Regions from separate parts of the Homo sapiens genome. Here all the other regions are reported to be linked to region 3. The links are microRNA targets in miRTarBase. Many come from high-throughput screens and were not tested one by one. Region 3 holds a microRNA gene; each other region holds the end of a gene's coding sequence.
Evidence for each region. Region 3 holds the annotated microRNA hsa-miR-6749-3p (CUCCUCCCCUGCCUGGCCCAG, at 1,758-1,778, opposite strand). A microRNA usually pairs through its seed, bases 2 to 8, with sites in the 3' UTR of a target mRNA and lowers its output. Matches are read on the target gene's strand: a 7mer-m8 pairs with bases 2 to 8, a 7mer-A1 pairs with bases 2 to 7 and ends in A, and an 8mer does both.

Region 1 (3,223 bases), not on the chromosome of region 3:
AAGAACTTGAACGGGAATACGCCACGAATAAATTCATTACTAAGGACAAACGGAGGCGGATATCAGCCACGACGAATCTCTCTGAGCGGCAGGTCACAATCTGGTTCCAGAACAGGAGGGTTAAAGAGAAAAAAGTCATCAACAAACTGAAAACCACTAGTTAATGGATTAAAAATAGAGCAAGAAGGCAACTTGAAGAAACGCTTCAGAACTCGTTGCTTTGCCCAGATAATGATAATAATGCTTAATAATAATTGAAGAATGGGAAAGAGAAAGAGACAGAGACTGGCATTTTCCTCTCCCGAAGGAGATCTCTTTCTCTTTAATGGAATCTACAACTGTTTTAAAACTTTAAGAAAGGTAAAGACTGCCAGTTCTTCCGCCAACCCCATCAGCCCAGCCCGTTAAATGTCAAACGTCAACCCCCAAAATACGCAATTTCAGATAAGTTACGCAGTTACTGAAATCTTGTAAGTATTTAAGTGATCGTTACATTTTAGGACACTGCGTTAGATGGTAATAATCTGGAAGTTGGTTACAAACGCAAGAGGCCATTGTAAACATCTGCTTGTCCTTCTTAGGTCGCCATTCCCTTTGCATGTTAAGCGTCTGCTCAGGTAAATCTTAGTGAAATTCCTACCGTTGTTGTACGTTCTGCAAAACATTTTATGTATAGATTTAGAGGGGAAACGAGAAGGTACTGAAATAATGATCTTGGAATATTTGCTGTGAAGGGAGAAAGGGAGAGAAAACTCTTCTGAGGATCATTTGTCTTGGTAGTATAGTAAAACCAACCAGCTGAACCTTTCAGGCTACAAGAGAACCCGGGTCGGTAATGTCTTTTTAAGAATAATTTTTAATTGCTTATAACAAGCATATTTTGTGGCATTTGAACTATATTTACTGCTCCAATATCCGTTATTTTCCAAAGGATTTTGTATCTTTTTGAAAATGTTTACATCATCAGATGATCCACAGAATTCACTTTATGTGAGATCTCCCGAGAGTTTCCATCCCAACATGATGGACTTTGGTTTGAACACAATTCGTTTTTTCATTTGAATTGGCATTTCCCAATATTTGCTAAACATTTGCTGGAGAAATCATTTTTCTTTTTTCTTTTTTAGAAAACTCAGAATGAAAATTCATTCCCCTGAAATATTTAGGTGTCTATATTCTATATTTTGATCTATTAAGGGATTAGTATTTTTCCATGTTTATTGTGTTATCAGAGTGCATTAGAAAGATTAGTGATTCATCTTCACAGCACATTTTTAATCAAGCAGTTATTTCAACCAGCACATTCGTTTTGTTCATATTCACTATAGAATGATATCTTGTAAATAAAGACATTCAGCACACTGTGAAAATGTATTTGTGCACCTGCTTTTTAAATATTTCTACTAAAAATGAAAAAAAAAAACCCTTAGACCTGTAGATAGTGATATCGTAATATTAATTGTTAATAAAATAGTCACTGCCATTAAAATCTGCAGAAAATACTCTTTACTTTCCTATGCTAAATGTGCACTGCACAGAAAGAAAAGGAGCAGGTTTATCTTATATAAACCAAGGACCATTCTTTATTATTATTCAGTACTTCTTTTGCTACCAAATTTTTAAGAAAAGGGAGAAATCCCTCATAACTAAAATCCTAAAAAATGATAAGTGCTTCAAGGAGATTAAAGTGTCAGGTATTACAAAAGGGAGAGAAAAGAAAGGAGGAAGAGATAGTATGAATTCCCAGGCTCCCTGTGGAAAATGAAAACCAGTTGTTTTGTAGCAGCAATGCCTAGGCTGTCGTATTTTAAAATCTGCTGTTGGGTCTGCATGTGTCTGAGAGGGCAGGTTTTGATATTTGTTGAAATGACAGGACTACGAAAGGCCTTAAACCTTGACCTTGACGAAAAAAAAGACAATTTGTGACCTTGACTTTTGACAGCTCATGAATTGGCCTTAGCTGGATTAGTAGATCAAGGGCGCCACCTCGCGTTGACAAGCCTCCTTGTAATTCTTCAACCAAGGGAATCAAGAGCTCTTACCTCCTTGACTTTAGAGATTCAGTACTCAATTATTTGGCTCCAGCTGGAGCAAATTTGAATATATGTAAATTATACATGTCCCTGTATATATGTAAATATATATAATATGTGTACACATGTATACATTTGCATATTAGTGCTTGTGTGTGCTTGTATATATATTTGTAGAATCTGTACAGATATCATATCATTAATTGCTAATGACGCAAGATATTGTAATTTAAGGTGATTTCTAGAATTGAGGTACAAAATGTACTTTACAAGATGAAGCCTTGTTCCTTTTCTCTAATGGCCAAATTTGATTTGTCTTCACAGTGGCTTGCTCTGCATCAGATTTCTGCAGATCTGCTTTAAAGCTGTACATTTTTGTTACAGTCTAAGATGTGTTCTTAAATCACCATTCCTTCCTGGTCCTCACCCTCCAGGGTGGTCTCACACTGTAATTAGAGCTATTGAGGAGTCTTTACAGCAAATTAAGATTCAGATGCCTTGCTAAGTCTAGAGTTCTAGAGTTATGTTTCAGAAAGTCTAAGAAACCCACCTCTTGAGAGGTCAGTAAAGAGGACTTAATATTTCATATCTACAAAATGACCACAGGATTGGATACAGAACGAGAGTTATCCTGGATAACTCAGAGCTGAGTACTGCTCCAGGGTGGTGTGCAATCTTATATTGATGCTTGTGAATCTGCCATTTGATTTGTAGGATAAATAAATATGTTTAATATTAACAACTTCCATCAAAACTATAATAATAATATTATATCTACTGTTGACCTCTAACAACAATCAGGTGCTGTATTCAGAGTCATAAAGAATACATATGTATGTTTGTATATTTAATATACACATAGGATAATGTGTTTTTGTCAAATCTATGCTATGCGCATATGTATTAAAATGTTGGTGGAATCAGTAGCCGTGGGATGCAGAATTGTGAGATGCAGGCTAATTTTATCTTTACGTTAGAGGAAAGTAATAGTGAATGGAAGAACCAGATTCATCATTTTATGGAAAATAATATTGATTGGTTACAAAAGTGGCTGCCGGAAACCTCTCCAACCTCTCCTGAGGACTCACAACTTCTTTATAGATGAGAATTACGAAAGAGTCTCTAAAGCTGTCTCAAAAACAGGCTGGTGTTGAAACATACATATCGAAAGGTCTCGAGAAATTCAATTA
Region 2 (3,241 bases), not on the chromosome of region 3:
ACCACCATCTCCACCACCCCAAGTTCACTTTGCATGACTTAGCACTTAGTCATTTATTGTGTTTGTTGAGGTTTCATTATTGGTTTCTTGACAGCCATTGGGGGTGGGAGCACTATGCATCCTATCTCCCTTAGTTTTGTACCTTGAGCAGAGCTGATTATACAGCAGTTGCCCAATAAATGTTGAGGACAGTGGATAGAGTGATGGATTTTATGGTCTAGGATGGTGACCATTAATTTAACAAATATTTATAGAATGCCACTGTCCTAAGTGCTGGAGATACAGCATTGAACAAAACAAAGTCTGAAGACTGACTTGTGGTTCTTATTTCCAGACAAAGCCCTGGACTTCCCTGGGTTCCTGGACATGATGGCACCTCGACTCAGGCCGGTAAGGGCCCTTGCCTTGGAGGAGATTGTATGTAGAGGGGTTATTCCAACCAGTCCTGTTTTGTCTGCAGGGCTGAGGGAATAGACAGGGATACCCTTAAGGGAGAACTCTGGAGCACTAACTGTGTGTTCCCTACAGATGCGTCCACCACCTCCCCCGCCGGCTAAAGCCCCGGATCCTGGCCACCCAGATCCCCTCACCTGAAGGCCAGGGAAGCCTTGACCCCCAGTGATGCTGCTGTCCCTATCTTCAAGCTGTCAGACCACACCATCAATGATCCAGAGCAACACAGCCAAAAGCTGGAATCGCCCTTATTTCCACCCTCACCTCCAAGGGTGGAAACTTGCCCCTTCCCATTTCTAGAGCTGGAACCCACTCCTTTTTTTCCCATTGTTCTATCATCTCTAGGACCGGAACTACCTTCTCTTCTGTCATGACCCTATCTAGGGTGGTGAAATGCCTGAAATCTCTGGGGCTGGAAACCATCCATCAAGGTCTCTAGTAGTTCTGGCCCACCTCTTTCCCCACCCTGGCTCCATGACCCACCCCACTCTGGATGCCAGGGTCACTGGGGTTGGGCTGGGGAGAGGAACAGGCCTTGGGAATCAGGAGCTGGAGCCAGGATGCGAAGCAGCTGTAATGGTCTGAGCGGATTTATTGACAATGAATAAAGGGCACGAAGGCCAGGCCAGGGCCTGGGCCTCTTGTGCTAAGAGGGCAGGGGGCCTACGGTGCTATTGCTTTAGGGGCCCACCACGGGCAGGGGCCTGCTCCCAGCTGCCACGCTCTATCATATGGAGCGAGGTGTTGGGGAAGGCGGGGCAGGCAGCCTGTTGCAGGCAGGGGAAGGAGAAGAGACTGAGGGGCTGTGACCTCTCCTGAGGCCCCCAGCCTGAGACTGTGCAACTCCAGGTGGAAGTAGAGCTGGTCCCTCAGCTGGGGGGCAGTGCTGTCCAGTGGAGGGGAGGGCTTTCACGCCCACCCACCCCCTGGCCCTGCCAGCTGGTAGTCCATCAGCACAATGAAGGAGACTTGGAGAAGAGGAAGAATAACACTGTTGCTTCCTGTTCAAGCTGTGTCCAGCTTTTCCCCTGGGGCTCCAGGACCTTCCCTACCTCCACCACCAAACCAAGGGATTTATAGCAAAGGCTAAGCCTGCAGTTTACTCGGGGGGTTCAGGGAGCCGAAAGGCTTAAATAGTTTAAGTAGGTGATGGGAAGATGAGATTACCTCATTTAGGGCTCAGGCAGACTCACCTCACATACTCCCTGCTCCCTGTGGTAGAGACACCTGAGAGAAAGGGGAGGGGTCAACAATGAGAGACCAGGAGTAGGTCCTATCAGTGCCCCCCAGAGTAGAGAGCAATAAGAGCCCAGCCCAGTGCAGTCCCGGCTGTGTTTTCCTACCTGGTGATCAGAAGTGTCTGGTTTGCTTGGCTGCCCATTTGCCTCTTGAGTGGGCAGCCCTGGGCTTGGGCCCCTCCCTCCGGCCCTCAGTGTTGGCTCTGCAGAAGCTCTGGGGTTCCCTTCAAGTGCACGAGGGGTTAGGCTGCTGTCCCTGAGTCCTCCATTCTGTACTGGGGGGCTGGCTAGGACCTGGGGCTGTGGCCTCTCAGGGGGCAGCCTCTCCATGGCAGGCATCCCTGCCTTGGGCTGCCCTCCCCCAGACCCCTGACCACCCCCTGGGTCCTGTCCCCCACCAGAGCCCCAGCTCCTGTCTGTGGGGGAGCCATCACGGTGTTCGTGCAGTCCATAGCGCTTCTCAATGTGTGTCACCCGGAACCTGGGAGGGGAGGGAACACTGGGGTTTAGGACCACAACTCAGAGGCTGCTTGGCCCTCCCCTCTGACCAGGGACATCCTGAGTTTGGTGGCTACTTCCCTCTGGCCTAAGGTAGGGGAGGCCTTCTCAGATTGTGGGGCACATTGTGTAGCCTGACTTCTGCCGGAGCTCCCAGTCCAGGAGGAAAGAGCCAAGGCCCACTTTTGGGATCAGGTGCCTGATCACTGGGCCCCCTACCTCAGCCCCCCTTTCCCTGGAGCACCTGCCCCACCTGCCCACAGAGAACACAGTGGTCTCCCCTGTCCGGGGGCGGCTTTTTCCTTCCTTGGAGCGTCCCTGACGGACAAGTGGAGGCCTCTTGCTGCGGCTGCAATGGAGGCAAGGGGCTGCAGAGCCCAGGTGCACTGTGTGATGATGGGAGGGGGCTCCGTCCTGCAGGCTGGAGGTGGCATCCACACTGGACAGCAGGGAGGAGGGGAGTGAGGGTAACATTTCCATTTCCCTTCATGTTTTGTTTCTTACGTTCTTTCAGCATGCTCCTTAAAACCCCAGAAGCCCCAATTTCCCCAAGCCCCATTTTTTCTTGTCTTTATCTAATAAACTCAATATTAAGATGTTAGTGACCATATGTTCTTCCTCCCAGGGCTGTTTGCTAAAAAGAACACTGCTTAACCCAAAGGAGTGGCACTAGAGGTGAATGTTAGGCTTGATGATATCTAGATGAGAGAGATGGTTTGAAGGAATCGCGATTTCTACAAAACAACTTTCTTCCTATAAGTTAGCCAGCTTTGCCCTTCCCCCAACCCCATACATGCAAGGAGGCTGGGAGAGGATTGTGCTGGAGGAGAGGATACTCTCCAAGGCAAGCTAAGTCATGCTGGCCCTTGTTTCCAGCTCACCTGGACAGCTGCACTGTCCCTTCTCCTTCACTGTCCCCCAGCATCTCCTTCAAGGCCTCAGCATTGGCTGAGGGAAGAAGGAAAAGAGGGAGTCAGTGGAGGTGGAGGTCAGGGCAAGAGAAGGTTGGAGAAGAGGGAGCAAGGGGCTATGCTAGACCCACCTTCATTCTG
Region 3 (3,241 bases):
CTGGGAAGAGGGACAGGGGCCAAGCTGACTCAGAGGAACCCCATTCCCTCCCCGTCCTCAGCGGGCCTTTTAGCCTGGGACAAGAGACCCCCGCTAGCCCCAGTCCTGGAAGGCAGGCGGGATAAGGAAGGATGAGGAAACTGAGGCCCACCTGGGGTGGATGGGGCTCAAGGTCTCCAGCTGCTGAAAGTCAGACCTGGACCAGCCTGAGCCCCAACCTTCACCAGCTGCCACCTGCACCCGCTCCTCCTCACCTGTGGCCGGGGTGGGGGCCAAAGTCTCGGCCCCCATAGAGGTGCCAGACGAGGGAGACCTCACGTAGCACCACCCGAGTGCTGGGCACTGGGAAATGGGCAGGTGCCCGCAGCAAGTCCGTGCTGCCGATCGGCCGTGAGAAGTAACCGTCCCTCACAACGATGGGGCCGGGATGCAGCTGTGTCACCACAGGCTCCCCATCTCGGGGCTGCAGGGAGGCCAGGTAGACGTGTGACACAGATGTTCGATCCAGCCCAGCTGCCCCCAGCCCCAGCAACCTGGCCTCACTTCTTTTTCATTTTTTTTTTTTTATAGACAGGGTCGGGTCATGTTCGGTCACCCAGGCTGGAGTGCAGTGGCACAATCACAGTTCACTGCAACCTCTGCCTCCTAGGCTCAAGCGATCCTCCATTCTCAGCCTCCTGAGTAGCAGGGACTGCAGACATGTGCCACCATATCTGGCTAATTTTATTTTTATTTTTTGTAGAGACGGGGTCTCACTATGTTGCTCAGGCTAATCTCTCATTGCTGGACTCAAGCAATTCTCCCACCTTGACCTCCCAAATTGCTGGGATTACAGGCGTAACCTACCATGCTTGGCCTCCTCCCTGTTTTTGATGAAAGATGACACTCCTGGGTTGCTATCACCCGAGTCTATGCCTGAGTGGTCTGTCCAAGAGGAGCCTGAGAATGCCAGGCTCCTGCCAGCCCTGCCTCCTAAGACCTGGGTGAGTTCAGACATTCCCACTGGCCCTTGCAGCCACATGGTTCTCCATCCCTCTTGCTAACTGCCCTCTCCTCTTCCTCCATCCCTTGAATTTCCCAGTCCCTCTGCCCAAAACACCAGGCCTCCTCTTCCTCTGGAAATCCCCCTACTCCATCAAAGCCCAGCATCAGGGCTGCCTCCCTAGGGTGGCACAGACCTAGCACCACCCCCGAGGTGATGGCAACCACCTCCTGCCTGCTTCTCTCACCACGGGAGCTCCAGATGGCCAGGCAACCACCCCTGAGTGTTCCGTCCCCGCTCCAAACACACCTGCCTGGACGGCAAACTGGTCCATCCCTCCCACCACGCACCGGGATGCCCAGGCCGGGAGCATCAAGGATGCAGAACTCATCACTGTCCAGGGTGTCTCCATCGCCCTCCTCTTCCCTTTCATCTTCCTTCTCCTCTGAGCATGACCCTAAGCTGCCAGCAGGGCCCCCGACAGGTGGTGAAGGGGGTGGGGCCCCACTCCGTTCACCTGGGAATAGGTAGACGGAGATGGGCGACGCCTGAGGGAGGTGGCCACCTATAGGAGAGAGGCCAGTTTGGAGAGGCGCCCACAGTGGGTGCCTGACTGTGTCTGCTGTCCCCACAGCACCCCCACTTCACCTGAAGGCTGGGCCAGCTCCCGTAGGCTGCGCTCGGTGTCCAGGAGGGCGTCGGCCAGGTCACGCTGGTTGATGAGGGCCGTCTCCACTGGGGGGCACGAGGGCAGAGAGGCAGGACTCTCCGAGAGCTGGGCCAGGCAGGGGAGGAGCAATGAGTGAGACAGGACAGAGCTCCCCCAACCCCAGGCCCGAGGGCCATGGCAGGGGAGGGGCCTGGCCGAGCTCTGGTAGCCTGTGTGGCCAGGCCTCACCTGTACCTTCTGGCCGGCGATCTCCGTGGGGCTGGGGGGCCGGGGTGGGGGGTGCAGATCGCCTGTGCTCATTACGTACTGGAGCAGGTTGACCAGCAGGGCACAGGAGTCGGCACAGCTGTGCACGTGTACCACATTGTTGGAGCAGCGCAGCTCGAATAGTGGCTGGCTCTGCAGGGGCGGGGTGGGGGGAGCAGCTATGTGAACACAGGGGCCACTGCCTGCTGGCCCCACCCGCTCGCTGGGAGGGCACCGCAGTTCTGATCCTGCCACAGGCAGAACAGGGATGGTCTCTCCTGGAGTGGATGACCTGCCCAGTAACTCCACTGAACAGATGAACAAACTGTTCACCCAGAGGGTGAAAGGGGCTTGGCCCAGGGCCATCCAAGGAAGCAGGAGTGTGCCCACCCACCCTACCCCACTCCCCGTGAAGGGCTCTGCATGCCTAGCGAGGCAGGGCAGGTTATCTCCATCTTACAGGAGATGAATCCGGGGACCTACAAAGGTGGCTGATTCCCAGGGCCTCGCTGGTGCCCTGGCTGCCGCGTCCTCTGGTGGCAGGGCTGAAACCCATTCATTCATTCAGCCAGCATCAAGGGACACCCCCACCAGGGCTGTACTATGGCCCTTTGCAGGAGGGGCGCTAACTGCAGCCCAGGAAGGGCAGGCATGAACTGTGTCCGGAGCCCAGGCACGTGAGGGAGCAGCAGCCCCTGAAGACTCCCTTGGCCCCTGCACCTGCTGTGGCTCCAGGAGCCAGAGTGACAGCCTCACTCACCAGTTTGCCCTCGGTGCTCCCTTTCCAGGTTTTAATCACAAGTTCCAAGAGGTCAACATCCAAAACACAGACATAATCTGCAGCAGAGGCGAGAGAAAGGTCCTGTGGCCCCCTTCCACCCGGCCCCGGCCCCAGCACCTGGGGGAAGGATCCGGTTGATCCAGGTGTAGTCCCTGCTGTGCGGGCTACGTGTGGGAGCTAAGGACCCGGCCAGCAGCTGCGGGGAGACACCTGGCTGCTCTGGGTGTGGCCGGGGCGGTGGTCCCTCAGAGGGGAGGGAGCCCAGTCCCGGCCCTGCCCACCTCGCCGCAGGTCCAGGGTCTCCACCTCACACTTGTCGGACAGGTACAAGGCGGAGTCATCGAGGATGAACCTGGGGGGGAACAGGGCTGAGAAGGGCCCGGGCACCGCTGCAGGGGGCAGCTCCACGGGAGCCGAGCAGAGGGGTCCCAAGCCCACAGGAGGTGGTATGGACAGGCCCCTCCAGCCTCAGCGTTCCTGCCTGCACAATGGGGAGAAGGCCCAGACAGCAGGCAGTGGGAAGCGGGCAGCACTTGCAGCTCTCAAAGTGCCTGCAGTTCCG
Region 4 (3,241 bases), not on the chromosome of region 3:
CTTGGATAGTTGAAACTAAATTTACTTTGCCTCTCTTGCTTTGTTTGGGGATTTTTTGCTCCTTAATTTCTTATTCGTATCACAGAATTATTCTGCAGGGTATCATGGCACTTAGACCACCTTAATCATAGTACAGAAAGAGGGAAAAGGGGAAATATTGGGAAATGTTGGGAGGTGCTCAACATTAGCTGCATCTGCTAAAGCAGAAAGCTTTAAGAAGTGAAAGTCCAAGAACTACGTAAATTATTTCTGTATGATTGGCAGCAGTAATAATATTCGTGTATGATTTTTAAATGCAATATTCAAGTTTATCTTAAAAATTCAGGTATTTTTAAAAGTGTCTATTATGAGGGATTTTAATCAGGTTTTGCTGCTTCTCATTATTTAAGCAAAATGTGATTGACTTTTGTTAACATGATTTTACTTTATGTTTCCTCTAAAAACACTGACTGTCTTTCTTTTTTTCTCCCACTCCACCCCCAGGGGAGAAGCCTTTTTCTTGCCCTCACTGCAACAGAGCATTTGCAGACAGGTCAAATCTGAGGGCTCATCTGCAGACCCATTCTGATGTAAAGAAATACCAGTGCAAAAACTGCTCCAAAACCTTCTCCAGAATGTCTCTCCTGCACAAACATGAGGAATCTGGCTGCTGTGTAGCACACTGAGTGACGCAATCAATGTTTACTCGAACAGAATGCATTTCTTCACTCCGAAGCCAAATGACAAATAAAGTCCAAAGGCATTTTCTCCTGTGCTGACCAACCAAATAATATGTATAGACACACACACATATGCACACACACACACACACACCCACAGAGAGAGAGCTGCAAGAGCATGGAATTCATGTGTTTAAAGATAATCCTTTCCATGTGAAGTTTAAAATTACTATATATTTGCTGATGGCTAGATTGAGAGAATAAAAGACAGTAACCTTTCTCTTCAAAGATAAAATGAAAAGCACATTGCATCTTTTCTTCCTAAAAAAATGCAAAGATTTACATTGCTGCCAAATCATTTCAACTGAAAAGAACAGTATTGCTTTGTAATAGAGTCTGTAATAGGATTTCCCATAGGAAGAGATCTGCCAGACGCGAACTCAGGTGCCTTAAAAAGTATTCCAAGTTTACTCCATTACATGTCGGTTGTCTGGTTGCCATTGTTGAACTAAAGCCTTTTTTTGATTACCTGTAGTGCTTTAAAGTATATTTTTAAAAGGGAGGAAAAAAATAACAAGAACAAAACACAGGAGAATGTATTAAAAGTATTTTTGTTTTGTTTTGTTTTTGCCAATTAACAGTATGTGCCTTGGGGGAGGAGGGAAAGATTAGCTTTGAACATTCCTGGCGCATGCTCCATTGTCTTACTATTTTAAAACATTTTAATAATTTTTGAAAATTAATTAAAGATGGGAATAAGTGCAAAAGAGGATTCTTACAAATTCATTAATGTACTTAAACTATTTCAAATGCATACCACAAATGCAATAATACAATACCCCTTCCAAGTGCCTTTTTAAATTGTATAGTTGATGAGTCAATGTAAATTTGTGTTTATTTTTATATGATTGAATGAGTTCTGTATGAAACTGAGATGTTGTCTATAGCTATGTCTATAAACAACCTGAAGACTTGTGAAATCAATGTTTCTTTTTTAAAAAACAATTTTCAAGTTTTTTTTACAATAAACAGTTTTGATTTAAAATCTCGTTTGTATACTATTTTCAGAGACTTTACTTGCTTCATGATTAGTACCAAACCACTGTACAAAGAATTGTTTGTTAACAAGAAAAAAATGAATAATGCTTATTATGCATCTGAAGTGTTATTTTATGTGTTAGATTATAATAAAGTAAGCTGCTAGTATTATTTTTACTCAAGATAGTAGTATCACATTCAGAAGAGACATGACGGTGGTTTGTTAGCATACCACTTTAACAAAAATCACACTTTCTGGGTGCAAAACTAGTTGTATTACTAATAGTTAAAAATACTTTTCAAAATTTTTCATGTTGACTTTATTAAGTTTGTTTTATGAAGACAAAAAATACAATCACTTTTATTATTACCTACACACTGTAACAGTTTAAGATTTTTAAAAGAAATATTATGTAAAGAGATATATGAGGGAAAAGAATACAAACTGCATGAAAAGACCAGGAGAAACGATTTACTATAAATTACACAAGTTGGAAAGTTAAACCATGCAAAGAAAACCCCGCATCTAGTAATATATAAAATAAGTGATGTGTTTGATAGGAACAGGTCAGTGAGCAGTGGAAATTACCTTTTAAGGTATTTGAACACGTTGGACAAGCCCACACTCAAACCTAATGTGTACTGGAGAAAGTATAACATGACCATGCATTCATACACATATGCATGTGTAGATGCTAAATAAATGCATGTGTAGTAACTCACATGCAAAAATCCTAACCATCATAGGAACTGTGAAAGTTAGCCAAATATATATTTGAATTCAAACTCCTAAACCTACTAAAAGAAGAAGAGTCCTGCTTCTGTTCATCACATCTCTCTGGTGATTTGATCAGAACTTGGAGAATCATCTTTTTCCTTTTAATATCTTTGTAATATTATACCAATAAATGCCAGAACCTGTATCTCAAAGATGTTGGTAGCAGGCCCCTAGCAAATGACCAACAATAAATACCAATACTATTCCCTTAATGTTCGCATTCCTTCCACTGTATGTTACATTTACATTTTCAGCCACCATATAAAAGGGGGTGCATTTGACTAAAAAAAGGCTTCCCAAGTATTCTGCTTTAATTTTTTGACATTGCAATACATATTTTTTAGAGGCAAAATTATTTGAAATAGCAGTTTATGGATATGAAAAAATGGCTGATAGCTTGACTGGAGCATTCTAAACTTATAAAAGTACCAATTTAGCTAAATGTATATGGTATAAAAATGATTGCCAATGATTGTCTAGAAGTTTCCAAGCCAGCTAGCATGTAGAAACATCTGGCAAGGGGAAGTGTGAGTGAGTCAAGCCTTCTTGGATGTTCTGGTTGGCTATCCCAGGAATCATATCTACTCCTGTTTCCCTTCCTCATTTGTAGGTCTACAGGCAAGTAGTGTCTTGGTGTCCAAAATCTAATCAGCTTTCTAAGAGGAAAAGTCTATTCATTATTTAATTTCTTAGTGAAGAATTAGTAGTAATATTTTTGTAATTTATTTGACTTCATTCTCATCATTCTAATTTCATGTTTAAAATG
Region 5 (3,241 bases), not on the chromosome of region 3:
TTGGGTTTTCAATTAAGATGGCTAGGCCCCATTTTCACCATCCTCTACCACAGGGTCTCGCTCTGTTTTAAAATGCTTCTTTCCTCAGCTAGCTATTGTCTTGCCATGCCCGTGCCTGCCTAATCACTCCCTGCTACCCAGGGACAGCGGGCTTCTAGATCACCGTTGTTCATTCCCAAACCCAGGCATATCTCTGCCCAACTAAAAGGGCAGGGGGCGCTCTCTTAACCCCTGAGTTTGGGGTGAAGGGTCCTTCTCAGACCCTCCCACTCCTTAAGACCTCGGAAACAGTGCAGGGGAGGTCACTAGGCACATTGTGGGGTTTAAGGATGATTCCCCACTCCACAGCCTGACGCATCGACTCTGCGGGGTCTCTGGCCCCCCTTTCCTGGAACCAGCTCTCGCCTCACGTGGCCTGCGAGGCTGGCCTGTGATTGGCCACTTGGCGTCACTCACTGAGTGCCGCCGCCGAAGAGGACCGGCCCCCTCACGTGACAGTGGAACGCCGCAGCGGCTCTCCTCAGCCAGCAAGTGGCAGTTTCGGGTTCACACGGAAACGGGCGTGCCATTTCCGCGCACGTCTGCAGATGCGGTAGTCGATTGGTCAAGTCTCCCATGGCTCCTCCTTCATCAGGAGGTGGGCAAACCGCGCCATGATAGGGTCGGGATTGGCTGGCTCTGGAGGCGCAGGTGGTCCTTCTTCTACTGTCACATGGTGCGCGCTGTTTTCTAATCACGTGGCTGCCACCCAGGTAAGAAGAGGCCGCTCTTCCTGGGGTTGTTTCTCCGTGTGACGTGTGGCCTTTGAGATCAACTCTCCTGTACCAGCGTAGGCCGCATGAGTGGGGGGCGGGCTCCCGCGGTCCTGCTCGGCGGAGTGGTGAGTGACCGGCCCCGCCCCGCCCCTTCCGGTCCTCGAAGCCTCGACCGCTACCCGCACCCTAAATCCCAGAGGTTGGCCCCCTGAGGTGTGAGTGAAATGAGCTTTTGCTTTATTTTCCAAGTTTCTCTCTCACCTTCAGGGGCATTCTTCGGGGGTGCATCAGAGGGAGGGCAGAGCCTGAGGATCTAAGCGAAGGCTTCCCCGGGTGTAATTTCCTGGGCTGTTTGTGAGGAGAGATCGAATTCGCCTCCTGCTCTCAGGCCTCTCTGCTCCTGTCTTTTGTTTGGATGCCGGCGCTGCTGCCTGTGGCCTCCCGCCTTTTGTTGCTACCCCGAGTCTTGCTGACCATGGCCTCTGGAAGCCCTCCGACCCAGCCCTCGCCGGCCTCGGATTCCGGCTCTGGCTACGTTCCGGGCTCGGTCTCTGCAGCCTTTGTTACTTGCCCCAACGAGAAGGTCGCCAAGGAGATCGCCAGGTAGGGACCTCGATGTGCAGCGAGAAAGGATGATCATGAAGGGACAGTTGGGGGTGGGGCAGAAGAGTGCTGCTTTCTCCTTTCTCCAGCTCTGGAAGCCTGTCTCTGGGCTGCCAGTACAAAAACTGGGGTTATGGGGTACTCTGAATGGGACTGTCTCTTCACTCCAGGGCCGTGGTGGAGAAGCGCCTAGCAGCCTGCGTCAACCTCATCCCTCAGATTACATCCATGTGAGTCATAGGAGTTGGGGGGTTAACCTAACTGTAGGAGCTGACTGGGAACCTCTTTCCTGGGGGAAATTCTTTGCTCCCCACAACTCTCCCCCTCTGACCTTTCAGCTATGAGTGGAAAGGGAAGATCGAGGAAGACAGTGAGGTGCTGATGGTGAGAAACATTTCCCCCACCCAACAAAATATCCCCAATCCCTGACCCCTTTAGCCCTTACCCCTCTTCTGAGAAACTGAACTCAATCCCACTCCTTGATTCAACCATGTTTATCTTTGTCCCTTAGATGATTAAAACCCAAAGTTCCTTGGTCCCAGCTTTGACAGATTTTGTTCGGTGAGAACTTTGAGATGGATGGGGTGAGGGTGTGTACTGTGTGGGTGTGACTTGCTGGGCAGTCTAGGGCTTGCGTGTAAGGGAGTGGGTTCTTTTGGGTAAATCTTTGAGTGATCCCCTTCCCCCACCCACCTATTTTGTAGTTCTGTGCACCCTTACGAAGTGGCCGAGGTAATTGCATTGCCTGTGGAACAGGGGAACTTTCCGTACCTGCAGTGGGTGCGCCAGGTCACAGAGTCAGTTTCTGACTCTATCACAGTCCTGCCATGATGAGCCCTGTTCCTGCTCATCATGAAGATCCCCGCGATACTTCAACGCCTTCTGACTTCCAGGTGATGACTGGGCCCCCAATAAATCCCGTCTTTGGGTCTCTCTGCCTTTTGCCTGTTTTTTGTCATGTATGCAAATTTGTTGGGAGAATATAAGTGCTTCTAGTCCCTGTATTCTCTACATCTTTCAGAATGACTCAGAGCTGCTAGATTTGTTTATTTCTCTTTATTTCAATCATACAGAGTCCGGGATCCCTTATCATCCTCCCTCCTCAGTCTCTGCCCCCAGGGGTTAAATAATTTTAAAAAATATTTAAAAAGCTGTAACAAAATAACATCAAAGGAAATGGGAAGGATGGGAGGGGTCAGGAATCATGAAGGAGGGTAGAGAAGAGGGCCTCTTCCCCACTCCCCACTCTTGGATTCCAGCCTGGGCAGTAGGGAGAACTACCCCCTATCTCTCCAGGTACATCCCAGCTGTAGGTGAGGTCAGAGGTCAGGGTATGAAAGTGCCGGTGTGTGTGAATGGGGAGCTGGGCAGAGGCAGGCTGTTCAGAAGATGCCCCCTCCTCCCCACTCAACCAGGTACTGCACAGAGCCATCAGGCCGTACTCTCCGAGCAAGGACCCGGACAGGGTCCCCTCGGGACAGGTAACCAACCCCACCTCGGACTCCTCCCCCAGTCCCAGGAGACAAACTACGGCACAGGGGAGAAGGGGGTGCTGAGCGTCTAGGAAGACCTGGGGATGGGGATGAAACTGAGGAAGATGAGGCAGTCATCGAGTGGGGGGCACTTTTAGGGATGTCTGTGGGGAAACCAATGTGAAGTTCCAGGGGTGACCTAGGGAGAGAAGGCAATTGTAAGAAATGGGCAGAAATGGAGAGCACATGTGAATCAGAGAAACAGTGTTAGAGACTAAGAGCCTTGAGCACATAGAGGGGAAGAAGAGCATCACTGGTAATAGAAGACAGAATCTCACCTGTCTGGGGGTCCACTGTCCCCAGAGGTCCCTGCGGTGCTGGCAGAAGGGTGGAAGGAAGCAAACATCCGGA
Region 6 (3,209 bases), not on the chromosome of region 3:
GCCACATTGGCAGGAGTGAGGTCCCAGGAGCCTCCTTTGGCAGGGGGTGTGGCCAATGTGTCCTCTGGTTCTGAGAGGTCCAGGTGATGACCGGGAGCACCCCGGGGATCTGGCCATGGGAGGTCACTACTGACCTGGTGTTCCAGAGGTGCAAAGGGGTGGGGAGTCGGACTGAAGAGAATCCAAAGAGGACAGGAGTGAGCCACGGATGCCGAGTGTGGTCTTTTGAGTGGCCCCCAGGAGGGCTCAGGCAGAGCTGACTTGAAACCTGCTCCCCTCCTCCCAAACTATTCTCCCCAGGGCAAGCCATGAAGCGGGACTGTGTGGCAGCCCTGCATGCCCTCCACCTCTCTGTCCCCTGGGGCACCGGACCCCACTTTGGCATTAGACCCCAGCCTCTGGCCACAGCTAACTGCCCAGGGGTCGGCCCCGACCCACTTGGCCAATCAGAGTCCCCCGTGCAATGCCAGGAGCTAGGACTCAGGGGGGCTGATTCCCCACCTCTTGTAGGGCAAGGTGTAAGCTCAGCGTGGCTGCAGGAGCGCCTGTACCCGCTGCTGGGGGAGAGAGACAGCGGTGATGTTGCCAGGCTGAGAGGCAGGAACCCATGAGGGAGCAGAGGGCACCACCTTGGGCTCTGCACAGTGACAGACCTGCTGGGTTTCCAAGACTTTCCACCCTCAATCCTAGCCCTAAAGGGTCACCCGCCGCCTCTGAGGACTGGGAATCGGGGGTGAGTGAGTGGAGGGCACTGAGCTCTCTCCCTGTTTCCCTCCCTCCATCCCTCCCTCCTCAGGATGGGAGAAGACCCTGATTTCCAGCCCCTCCAACGCCCACCTGGCTGCCCTGGGCACTCCCGGGGGCCTCTCCGCAACGCAAGGACACCAAAACCACAGGGCTTTGAAATCATCGATCGAGTTTAATACATTGTAAAGAAGGAAAACTACATTGGCGTATTTAAGACAAACACTTTTTCTCTATCCTCACTACCCACTGGACGGTCCTCCTTGGTCCAAAAAAAACCTAACAATCTCAAGACACATCGGCAGCTACCCCTCCCGGGTCCAACCTTTCAGATCCTCCCATTACACTGTTAAAACATGTAACTCAATCCATCCGCGAAGAAAACCAAACCAACAGAAAAGGAAGCTGAAGACATGGACATCGCAAGCCACGCGGTAATGCATACTTGGCACAGAGTAGCCAATATAGAAGACGTGTGCCTCACACGGTTCACTTTGTTCATCAATAAAAGAATATAAAAATCTTGTTCACCCAGTGGTAAGTGTATTAAAATAGATCTGTATCATACAGCACAGTTTCTCCCGGAGTCGTGAGAATGACAGGAGGGACCGTGGCAGCTGCGGGATTTGCCGGCCTCCTCGCTCTGCACCTCTGCGTGTGTGCATGCGTGTCTGTGGTCGTGGCCGCGTGCGATGCACACACGCGTGTTCAGTGCAATTCGGCACCATGTGATATGCTCGGGGTGGGAGCCCGTGGCTCCTGGACGCTTATCCTGTTGTGCTGAGTCCCTCAGGACTGGGATGTGGGAATCGGGCAAGGGTGACAAGCTGCCACTGCCCACCCTGGATGCAGAAGCCCTTGGCAGCAAGTCTGGTCCCCGAAGGCCGGAACCTCCCGAGCCACCGCCCTTTCTTTCCTCCCCAACCCTCCACCCGGCTCGTAAAAAACCTGCCGGATCTTCCAGCTTGGCCAGGCTTCCCGAGGGGAGGTGTTCCCATTTGTACCTTGAAGCAGAGACTACTAGAAGCAGAAAGGAAGTCAGCCAGAGTCCCCCCAACCATTCACATTAAATATCTCACAATAAAAACGCCATACAAAAGTGTGAAGTTATTTTTTGGCATAGTGTCTGCACTGGCAAGAAGGGAGGAGTGGAATACTTATCGGCTCTTCCAAAGGAGACAAGAAAGGGCTTCAGTCGTTAAGTTGAATGATTCAACCCCAAGGAGAAAACCTGCCAAATGCTGCCCCCCACAACAGGGTTGCAGCTCCACTCTGCCCAGAAACTCCATGAGAAAAACGCATCAACGGCAAACTGAGTCCAAGAGATTGGCAAAAGGAAGGAGGCAGCCTTGAGGACCCCAAAGACGGAGCAGGAAGGGCACAGGCTCTGGCGGGGATCACTGCAGCGTCCCGGCGCCCAGATGCTCACCTCCGACAGTGTCTTTCAAGTTAAACAGCTGCAATTCGTAACCCTAATAATACTGACAGAAAGGGGCCCAGGTGGTTCTGCAAAGGCGACGGAGTGCCCCAGGCCCGCCCGCCCACCCCAGGGGGACCTCCTAGGAGCGTGGGGCATTGAGGAACTACCTAGATCCACTACCCCGCTTCTCGTCCCAACTACCGCTACCACTCAGCTAGTCCATGTGTTCTCAGCTCGCCCTCCCACAGGACACCAATAGGCGGTGCCCTCAGTGGAGACTGCGTTCTGGGGGGCGTGCTTGTCCCCTCCACAGCCTCAGCCTGCCCCTCCAACGGGCCAGAGGGAGGCCGTGGAGAGCAGGGCCTGGAAGCCAGAGGCCCAGGCAGCCCCGAGGTGGCCGGGGGGAGACTGTGTGCCCCAGCCTGTCGTACCCCACCTGGCTCCTAGGTACCCCCTGTGAATTTGGAGGGCACAGGGCCGCACCCCCACCTGGTCCTGGCTCTAGGCCTCTCGCCCAGCTCTTCCTCCCTCCTCTCCTCTGTCTGGTTAATTTTTGTCTGAAATTCATAGTGTTTATGAATTAAGGCCGACAGAACCCCCAGGCTGTGTAAGCAGGGTCCCAATAACTTTCCGTGGGTATGAAGACTGGTCCCTCGGGGTCAGTTGTGGCCCTGGGGGTGCTGGACGGTGGGGTGTGTGGCTGCCACTGAGGGCTTGGTCCAGGGCCCGGCCAGCAGTGGGGCAGGGCTAGTGGTCGTCATGGTGACCTGGAGCAGCTGCTCGCCCTGTATCAGTCTCAGGAGGGCCCGCAGGCGGTCCAGGGATGACTGGGTGCCCCTCTGGCGGGCCAGCAGGCTTGTCTTCAACTCCAGGCATTTCTGTTGGGGAGAAGGTCAGGGGAAAGGGTCTCAGTATTCGGCTCTACAGCCATCCTGGGGCAGCCACCGTCTGGGCCCCTCTCCCCTCCACTACAAAGGCCTACAAGAAACCAGGCTGAGGGCTTCACAAAAACCAGGCAGTGGTGCAAATGCAATTAAAGAGCAGC

Region 1: miRTarBase lists HOXA13 as a target of hsa-miR-6749-3p. Seed matches in the 3' UTR shown: 7mer-A1 at 1,721-1,727.
Region 2: miRTarBase lists FCHSD1 as a target of hsa-miR-6749-3p. Seed matches in the 3' UTR shown: 7mer-A1 at 2,351-2,357 and 7mer-m8 at 2,639-2,645.
Region 4: miRTarBase lists SNAI2 as a target of hsa-miR-6749-3p. Seed matches in the 3' UTR shown: 8mer at 1,218-1,225 and 7mer-m8 at 1,313-1,319.
Region 5: the mRNA of PHF1 is a reported target of hsa-miR-6749-3p. Seed matches in the 3' UTR shown: 7mer-m8 at 2,451-2,457.
Region 6: the mRNA of PHF21B is a reported target of hsa-miR-6749-3p. Seed matches in the 3' UTR shown: 8mer at 2,686-2,693, 8mer at 1,658-1,665 and 7mer-m8 at 1,078-1,084.

Annotation. Positions count from the first base shown.
Region 1 is chr7:27,195,139-27,198,361 of GRCh38, reverse strand. HOXA13 (homeobox A13) reads left to right here. Exons shown (of 2, transcript NM_000522.5): 2 at 1-3,223. The coding sequence ends at 164. Among named protein-coding and RNA genes, the nearest start is that of HOXA13, 3.3 kb to the left of the region's middle.
Region 2 is chr5:141,638,851-141,642,091 of GRCh38, reverse strand. It overlaps FCHSD1 (FCH and double SH3 domains 1), which reads left to right. Exons shown (of 20, transcript NM_033449.3): 19 at 335-390; 20 at 529-2,790. The coding sequence ends at 594. It overlaps RELL2 (RELT like 2), which reads right to left. Exons shown (of 7, transcript NM_173828.5): 2 at 3,232-3,241; 3 at 3,071-3,137; 4 at 2,443-2,628; 5 at 1,797-2,172; 6 at 1,647-1,680; 7 at 1,028-1,421. The coding sequence ends at 1,648. Among named protein-coding and RNA genes, the nearest start is that of RELL2, 3.5 kb to the right of the region's middle.
Region 3 is chr11:64,900,630-64,903,870 of GRCh38, forward strand. MIR6749 (microRNA 6749) reads right to left here and starts at 1,826; the gene lies at 1,758-1,826. ATG2A (autophagy related 2A) reads right to left here. Exons shown (of 41, transcript NM_015104.3): 25 at 2,961-3,031; 26 at 2,659-2,735; 27 at 1,887-2,051; 28 at 1,631-1,757; 29 at 1,333-1,547; 30 at 255-463.
Region 4 is chr8:48,916,231-48,919,471 of GRCh38, reverse strand. It overlaps SNAI2 (snail family transcriptional repressor 2), which reads left to right. Exons shown (of 3, transcript NM_003068.5): 3 at 484-1,874. The coding sequence ends at 665. Among named protein-coding and RNA genes, the nearest start is that of SNAI2, 3.6 kb to the left of the region's middle.
Region 5 is chr6:33,415,598-33,418,838 of GRCh38, reverse strand. It overlaps PHF1 (PHD finger protein 1), which reads right to left. Exons shown (of 15, transcript NM_024165.3): 14 at 3,169-3,241; 15 at 2,400-3,029. The coding sequence ends at 2,741. CUTA (cutA divalent cation tolerance homolog) reads left to right here and starts at 732. Exons shown (of 6, transcript NM_001014840.2): 1 at 732-880; 2 at 1,144-1,358; 3 at 1,529-1,588; 4 at 1,697-1,742; 5 at 1,870-1,919; 6 at 2,063-2,397. The coding sequence starts at 839. The coding sequence ends at 2,189. It also overlaps a transcript of SYNGAP1 not described here.
Region 6 is chr22:44,880,263-44,883,471 of GRCh38, forward strand. It overlaps PHF21B (PHD finger protein 21B), which reads right to left. Exons shown (of 13, transcript NM_138415.5): 13 at 900-3,042. The coding sequence ends at 2,824. Among named protein-coding and RNA genes, the nearest start is that of PHF21B, 130 kb to the right of the region's middle.